Linked DNA regions of Homo sapiens: region 1 is linked to region 2. The links come from fine-mapping of genetic effects on gene expression. A gene starts in region 2. The other region holds a variant in brackets. All regions are shown on one strand. Distances are between the middles of the regions. Region 1 has its middle 8.9 kb from the start of GSTO1. Region 2 holds the start of CFAP58-DT (CFAP58 divergent transcript).

The links. PIP is the estimated chance that this variant, and not a neighbour inherited with it, causes the effect.
Region 1: its variant is the best candidate, but not a certain one, in a credible set for the expression of CFAP58-DT in whole blood (INTERVAL, PIP 0.59).

What each region holds. Positions count from the first base shown.
Region 1 is chr10:104,243,746-104,248,140 of GRCh38, forward strand. No RefSeq gene overlaps it. Among named protein-coding and RNA genes, the nearest start is that of GSTO1, 8.9 kb to the right of the region's middle. The variant A/G (reference allele first, on the strand shown) is at 2,257.
Region 2 is chr10:104,351,162-104,355,556 of GRCh38, forward strand. CFAP58-DT (CFAP58 divergent transcript) reads right to left here and starts at 2,414. Exons shown (of 2, transcript NR_108036.1): 1 at 1,957-2,414; 2 at 140-766. It overlaps CFAP58 (cilia and flagella associated protein 58), which reads left to right and starts at 2,672. Exons shown (of 18, transcript NM_001008723.2): 1 at 2,672-2,745. The coding sequence starts at 2,737. RefSeq lists enhancers at 67-126, 885-934, 955-1,064, 2,342-2,401.

The sequences.
Region 1 (4,395 bases), 110 kb before region 2:
ACAATGCCTCTTTACCTTTGGGAACTGAGCACACACAGTGTGTTTAGGAAGTTGTACACATGGCCATCTGAGGCTTTCTGCCCTTTTCTGGGGGAGTGCCCCTAGAAGGTCATACTCTACCACTGTCTTTTTTTTTTTTTTTTTTTTGAGACCGAGTTTCACTCTTGTTGCCCAGGCTGGAATGCAATGGCGCAATCTTGGCTCACTGCAACCTCCGCCTCCTGGGTTCAAGAGCTTCTTCTCCTGCCTCAGCCTCCCAAGTAGCTGGGATTACAGGCATGTGCCACCACACCCAGCTAATTTTGTATTTTTAGTAGAGATGGGGTTTCTCCATGTTGGTCAGGCTGGTCTCAAACTCGCGACCTCAGGTGATCTGCCTGCCTCGGCCTCCCAAAGTGCTGGGATTACAGACGTGAACCACTTCACCCGGCCCATTTTGTCTGTTAATGCATATGCCCAGAAAGTTGCTTCTCTCTGGTGCCCGCATTCAATTAACACTTTAGTGCAGTAATTGTGGACCATCAGAAAATGGCCTCTCCCTGGCTCCAGCTGCCAATTTATCACTTTTAGAGAGGCAATGTGATAATTGCTGAACCATCACCTGACATTCCTAGTGGGCGGGGGAGAGCTGTCTCCTGCCCTGCTCATGCCTAACTGCCTGTAACACTATGGTACATGTTTGAGAAACTAGTACTTACTGAAAGATAAAATAACATAGGAGGAAGACTTTGTAGGAGACAACAAAAGGGGAAGACAGTGGAATTTATAAGAATGACAAAATACATTGCAGAGTAATATAAAGTAAGGAATTTACCCCCTTGAAGTACTTGGTTTGTGGTGGGCATGGGACTTCTGATATGTCTTGGAGCCTTGGATGCCAGGTAATTACCAGTTTTGCAGAACACTGACATCTATGGACTCTAACATGGACTCCATTTAAAGAACTCCAAGGACGATTAATAAACAAAAACACAAATCAATTTGCACTGTTGCCTAAATATCACCTAAAATAGCACGTTAGGAAAGCACCAAGTACCAAGTGTGTGAAGACATGGTCTGAAGAAGTGTCTGAAGACCATCATTCCACATTTCACATTGAATAATATCATGAAGACTTAAGATCCTCTTAAAAAGCTTCAAAGCTCATCTTTATTAATTTCTCACAAAAGTAAACCTCTTCCCAAAAGTATAAACTTAAAACTACTAATGTATCAATATATTCTATTTTGTGTCGTCTCATCGTGAGAGGTGACAGCGTGCTGGCAGCCCTCGCAGCCCTCGCTCGCTCTGGGCTCCTCCTCTGCCTGGGCACCCACTCTGGCGGTGCTTGAGGAGCCAGCCCTTCAGCCCGCCGCTGCACTGTGGGAGCCCTTTTCTGGGCTGGCCAAGGCCGGAGCGGGCTCCCTCAGCTTGCGGGGAGGTGTGGAGGGAGAGGCGTGGGCGGGAACCGGGGCTGCCCACGGTGCTTGCGGGCCAGCGCGAGTTCTGGGTGGGCGTGGGCTCGGCGGCCCTGCACTCGGAGCGGCCGGCTGGCCCCACCACCCCGGGCAGTAAGGGGCTTAGCACCCAGGTCAGCAGCTGTGGAGGACGCACAGGGTCCCCCAGCAGTGCCAGCCCACTGGCGCTGCGCTCGATTTCTCGCTGGGCCTTAGCCACCTCCCCATGGGGCAGGGCTCCGGACCTGCAGCCCGCCATGCCTAAACCTCCCCACTCCGCCGTGGGCTCCTGTGCCACCCGAGCCTCCCCGACCAGCACTGCCCACTGCTCCAGGGCGCCTGGTCCCATCGACCACCCAAGGGCTGAGACCTGCCAGCGCACAGTGCAGGACTGGCAGGCAGCTCCACCTGCAGCCCTGTGCAGGATCCACTGGGTGAAGCCAGCTGGGCTCCTGAGTTTGGTAGGGACTTGGAGAATCTTTATGTCTAGCTAAGGGATTGTAAATACACCAATCAGCACTCTGTATCTAGCTCAAGGTTTGTAAATGCACCAATCAGTGCTCTGTGTCTAGCTAATCTAGTGGGGACTTGGAGAACTTTTGTGTCTAGCTCAGGGATTATAAATGCACAAATCAGCACCCTGTCAAAACGGACCAATCAGCTCTCTGTAAAATGGACCAATCAGCAGGATGTGGGTGGGGCCAGATAAGGGAATAAAAGCAGGCTGCCTGAGCTAGCAGTGGCAACTTGCTCAGGTCCGTTTCTGTGGCGTGGAAGCCTTGTCTTTTCGCTCCTTGCAGTAAATCTTGCTGCTCCTTGC[A/G]GTAAATCTTGCTGCTGCTCGCCATTTGGGTCCACACTGCGTTTATGAGCTGTAACACTCACTGCAAAGGTCTGCAGCTTCACTTATGAAGGCAGCAAGACCATGAACCCAGCGGGAGGAACAAACGACTCCAGATGTGCGGCCTTAAGAGCTGTAACACTCATCGTGAAGGTCCGCAGCTTCACTCTTGAAGCCAGCGAGACAACGAACCCACCAGAAAGAACTCTGAACACATCGGAACATCAGAAGGAACAACTTCCAGACACGCCGCCTTTAAGAACTGTAACACTCACCGCAAGGGTCTATGGCTTCATTCTTGAAGTCAGTGAGACCAAGAATCCACCAATTCTGTACACAATTGGACTTCCCTTTAATTTTTTTGGCTTTTAGGGTTTTTCATATTGCTTGTGTTCCCTTAGACGGGAGACAAACAATACTTTCCAGAAAAATACATGTTTTGGGGCCTTTTTCACTAGTAAAAACCTGGCATAACAATAAAACTAACTTTGCAAATATTATGACAGTGCAAGAAGTCCAGCATGGCTGACTGCATCTTGCTTCTAGCCTCACAGGCTGCCTGTCCTCGCTCATTCCTGGGTGTAGGCTCAGCTAACCCCGGGAGGAATTTAGTTTATGGTTTAACTTTGAAGCAAGGATGGTAATAGTCTGTCCCTAAAACTGATCCCCTCATTATCTGGGGACTGAAACCACCTTTGTAAGACTAATGAAAAAGACACAAGATTAGGCGTGTGGGAGAGGCCTGAATTCTGCTAAAATGTAAGCATGGTGAAATGATAACCAACTATTGTTTTGTATAATCCCTGAGTATTAAAATGTAGGTGTAGTTAAGCAGTACTACCAGCAGTTACTATTTCCTAGCTTGCTTTTCTATAATTTCTTACTGTTCAGGAGTCATGAAGTCAGAGGTCATAAGATTTGTAATTGCTTCTACAGTTGACATCACTATTGTCAAAACCTAAGACTGGTTTTTGAAATACTTTTCAGACTTCTGCATTCTGGTAACTAACTCCACCCAGACCCATGATTCGTATCAAGGAACTGACTCAACTGTTGGTCCCCACCCAGAATTGATTCAGCACTTGGAGACAGTTTGGACACTCCTATGATTTCATCCCCAACCAATCAGCAGCACCCATTCTCTTAGTCTGCTACACACCAAATTATCCTTAAAAGCCCTAGCTTCTGAGCTCTCGTAGAGGCAGATTTGAGAATTATCTCCTGTCCTACCACTTATCTGGCCCTGTGATGATTAAACTCCTCTACTGCAACACCACTGTCTCAGAGAATGGCTTTATCTGTGCAGCAGGCAAGATGAACCCATTAGGTGATTACAGTAAGTTTAGAAGTAGGTGTTTTGTTGTATTCTATGACAAAAATTTGAGTTAACATAAGTGAGGATGAAGTGGTGAAAATATTTGAGTTCAGATTATACTCTCAGAGGCTACGTGGCATGGAGAAAAAAGCCCTCGACCTTAAAGTTCATGGTTCTTATTCTATCTCTGCCTTTTACTAGGTCTGTTATAACTGGAAAAGCCACTTAACCTCTCTGAATCTTAACTTCATCTGTAAAGTGGATCTGATATTTCCCTGTCTACCCTCACAGGATTGTGGTGAAGATCAGATAAAGTCATGTACATAAAAAAGGACTTTCATAGAAAATGTACGATACAGTTATGTGGTCTTGTTACATAGTTGCAAGTCATTTCCCCTTAGCTGTTGAGTCTGGGAAGAAAAGTGGTTTACAGGCACACTGAAACAATATGCCCTGTCTAGGCAGGATACATGGTAACAAGACTATGTTAGTTTTTTAAATTTTTTTTCTGAGTTCATAGAATACTATTGTGAGCTAATTCTCAGAAGGAAGGCTATAAATTTCCCTTAAATTGTTAATTAGCATTTATAACACACATTTGTGCTCTAGAGCAGTTCTGAGTTGGAACGTATTAGTGGTTGGTAAGATCTGCTTACTAAGTTGTAACCAACATGTCTTTAAAATGAACGGAACAAAAAAACTTCACAGTGCATCCCAATGGTAAGTGTAAATTCTGTTTTAGGGGTGTGTGTGTGTGTATGTATTTTTTATTGGACATTAAATAAAATACATTTTTTTCTTTAAAA
Region 2 (4,395 bases):
CAGTGTGGTTCAGCCTGCCTCTCCAGTTCATCTGCCACCTCTCCAGCAACCTCCATGCACATTATGACTCAGCCACATTTCCCTCTTTTTGTCCACCAGATATACAGTGTCAGGTCATGAATGAGATGTCACTGCACAGTTGCCAGTTTTCCTTGCATTTATTCATCAACCCAACACAGTTCTCATAAACTTGACAAACTTACTCTAAACATTATAAGGGAGGATAAAGGCCCGTGGATAGACAAAGCAATCTTAACACAGAAGAATTTGGAATGGGGAACTTGCCCTTCAAGCATGATGACTAACTAAAAACCCACAGTGACAAAACCTTGTGGTACTGACACATGAACAAACCAGAGAGCTCAGAACATACTCATGTCTATTTGGAAACTTCCCCAAACCAATTTGGAAAGAATGGATTGTTTGACATGGGTTGTTGGAAAATTTGCTCACCCCATGGAGAAAAATATAGTTAGATCCCTATCTCACACCATATGGGAAGGAGAACTCCAGATGGATTAGATAACTGAATGTAAAAAAGTAAAACTATGAAGCTAATGGATAGAAAAAAATGATGGGAGAATACCTTTATGACCGTGGGGTTAAGGAGGTCTAAATAATACCAAAAAACTATATAAAAAATATAGGGAAAAAAAGAGCTAAAGAGCCACAGTATCAAAGTTAAGGACTATTGTTCCCTTAAAGACATAAAGGCAGAGTTTCTAGTCTTCTAAAGCAGATTGATGTCCAGGCTTCTCAAAGATATCTGTAAATCAAAAGAAAAAGAAAAAAGATCAATAGAAAAATAGACACAGACACTGAAAAGGCAGTTCACAGAAGGGAATCTCAAGTAGCCTATGAATGTATAAAGAAATGGTCAAAAAATTCACTAGTAGTTAGAGAAGTGAAAATGAAAGCAAAAAATGAGCTTACACTACTTTCATCATATTGACAGAAATTAGAAAATTAGCTAATTAGATGAGTCAATATTTGCAAAGCACTTAGAATAGTATCTGGTATTTACTAAACACTTTATGAGTGTTTAATAAAAAAGACCTATCACCTTCTGGAAGGGATGGATGGAAGTGTTGGATGGAAACCCCACACTGGAGTGCAGCGTAGGGCAGTAACTCTGGTACACAATCTTAAAGTGCTTGGTAAGTACCCAGGGCTTGTACTAGGCTACTGGGCATCGTTGTGCTCTTGGAAAACTGTTCATCTGGCCAGATGAGTTTGAAAATATCACACCCTCTAGATAGTTACAGCCTTCTAGGTTCATGACTTGGCTGGCGTACAGAGATTTTGTGAGAATAAAAAGTGCACACCTTTCTCCAGTAGGGCACATGGCACGGGAAAGAGAGTAGAGACAGTTTTTCAGCCTCCATTGCCCCATGGCTGGATGTGTTTGTGCAGGACGCAGCTGCATAAGCAAATGTCCCTGTGCATCCCTATAACTTTAACAATCTTACTCCTTGGCATATATTTCAGAGGAATTTGCACAGAGGTCCTTAAGGGACCACGGACAAAGACGATCATGGCTGTATTACTTGATGTATTGGAGAATTAGAGGCGGCCTTGTTACCTAACACCTGGGGAATGGAAGTGAAGTGTGGTAGATGCCCCTTATGAAACGCTGTGCAGTACTCAGAAGCAATGAACTATATGCTTGCCAATCGCAACGAGGACAGATCCTTAAAAAGAATGTTGAGTGAAAAAAGTAGAAAATAAGATAATCTCCAAAGTCCAGTAGCATTATTTAAACATTTTTAAAAAATACACTGATAAAAATTTTGTACATTTCCCAAAAATACATATGGAAGCACAGCAGCATGAATGCCTATGGGGTTGAGGATAGGGGTTGGGAGTAGGGATGGGGATAAAGGGGGAAAATAAAACCAGAGAGGAGTCTTACACATTTCATGAACCAAGGAGTATAATTATTTCAACTATTTGTACCTGAAGTCCAGAAAGAGTGGAGGCAGAAGGGGGAGAAGAGGGCGAAGAAACGTTTTTGGGAGAGGGGTCCCAGAAGAGAGATTTTCGCGATGTGGCGCTACATACGTTTTTCCAGGATGCCTTAAGCTCTGCACCCTATTTTTCTCATCACTAATATTAGATTAAACCCTTTGAAGACAGCGTCTGTGGTTTCTCTACTTCAGCTTTCCCTCCGTGTCTTGCACACAGTAGCTGTTTTACAAGGGTTGAACTGACTGAAGTGAGATTATTCCTCGTTGTCTCGGAAGGCAGAGTGTAGCCGCCAGTCCTTCCCTCATCCGGAACCTTCTGGTCCACATTTCCTTCCAAGCGTTAGTCCTCGGCTCTCCATGCTTGGCTCCCTAGTGTCACACACCGTCCTTTCTGGGTGGCCTCTTCCAATTCGCCCTCTTCTTTCTCCTGGGTGTCTCCATCTGCCCACACCGTGGGACTCCTCCCAGCCTCTCAGGGGCACCGCCCCCTCACTTCCTTGGCTCCGCCCCATTGGGATATATTTGCATATTTCTCTGAGGAACCCTGCCCAGGTGCCAGCCGCAGAAGCTCCTCCCCTTTCGAATTCCCGCTAGCGCCCCTAGAGGGCGTGTCCGTTGCCAGGCGACGGGCCGACGCGCCGAGCGCGGGTTTCCGCTCGGGGCGGGCGATAGAGACAGCGCGTCGCGCCTTTAGCTTCTTTCCCAGACTCCGGCCCAGCTCCTGCGATCTCCACAGCAGCCTCTGAGGCCGCCCCCAGAGAGCATCAGGATGGCTGAGGTCAGGAGTCAGCGCCCCTCTGTCGCCTTTCCCTTGACCCCTCCCCATTGTCCCTCTCCTACTGACGATTGTCACAAACGGTGATTCCAATATTTCCCCCCATCAACATCTTATTCCCCTGCACCCTCACTCACTCCCGCGCCTTTCTCCGTTGGCTCTGGCCTCTTTACCTCCTGTTTCTCCTTCATTTGTGTGGACACCCCACTATCCCCACTGTGGCATCGGCGCTATGCTAAGTGCGGTAGAAAATTAATGAATTCTGAAATCCACACGTGACATGCACCCAGCCCTAGATTTTTAGTCATGGAGTGATACCATAAGAGAGGCTCACACAGAAATATTGGAGATGTCTTATCTCACAGGGGAAACCGGGAAGAAAGCTTCACAGATGCCTGCTGTCATCCCAATCAATGGCCCTTGTCCACCTGTCACACCCTGATTTCCTAACATGTGATCACCTGCTGTCACACAGCTTCATTAAGGCTCTTCTGCCCATCACCTCTGCCCCGTGTGTTCATTGACTCCTGTGTTAACATCTCGTATCACCCCACCACTCCCCCATATTACAGTACACCCCATTTTCAGCCTCTCCAATGAGGGGTTATTTCTGCAACCCTTCAGTGACTCCCTGCCTGCCCCTTAGCCCCCTCACGTATAACCTCAAGAGCCTCGGGTCCCTGTCATTACTTGCCATTCACAGTCCCCATCCACTATGGCCCTACCCAAATCCTTCATGGCCCCATCAGAGCCCTTCCCCCATCACCCATCCCACGGTCTGTTCCAGCCAGGACCAGCTACATGATTTGCAAGGCCTGATGCAAAGTGAAAACACAAAGTCTCTTCAAAAATTACAAATAATTTTAAGACAGAACAGCAGAGCATTCAACCAAGAATGGGGCCTTTCTGAGCAAGGGGCCCTGTGCAACTGACCAGTTTTCACTCCCATGAAGCCAGCCCAAGCCCCATCATCTTTCAGCACCATCGTGCTCCACCCCCTCCCCACCCCATTCTAGTTACTCTCTTGCTTCCTCTGCACCATTCACATCCCCTCATCATTGCTTTTCCTCCATCTCCAGTCTAGCTTTATAAATTCCGTCTTCCCGTGGTCAACACCTCCTTCCTTTCCTTATCATACGATCTCTTTCATATCATCCATCTTCCTCACGCCTGGGCTCCATCACTCACATCTCTCTCTGACATCCATGCTGCTGTGGCCACTTCACTTCTCCCCATTACCCATAGTCATTTGTATCTCTTTCTTCCCATTTCCTTTCTTGTTCCTTCTAGTTCTTTATTGTCCCATTATTGCTTTTGAGTGTTTTCTCCTCTTTTCTCCCACCAGTCATCTTTGTTTATTTCATTCTTCATTCCCCATAGGGAAGCCCCAGCCTCCCAGAGGCACCAGCCCCTCATTTCCTTGGCTCTGCCCTATTCAGGATATATTTGCATATTTCTGTGAGGAACCCTGCCCAGGTGCCGGCCTCAGAAGCTGCTCCACTATTATGGATTAGTTATTTCCATTTCCCTCTTTCTGTTACTCCTCTCGTTTCTTCCTTTCTTCTACTTTTCTTCTTACTTGACCTCAGCCAACTTTCTCGATTCTGCTTTCACAATTCTCTATTTCCCCTCTGGCCTCATCTTATATTGCAG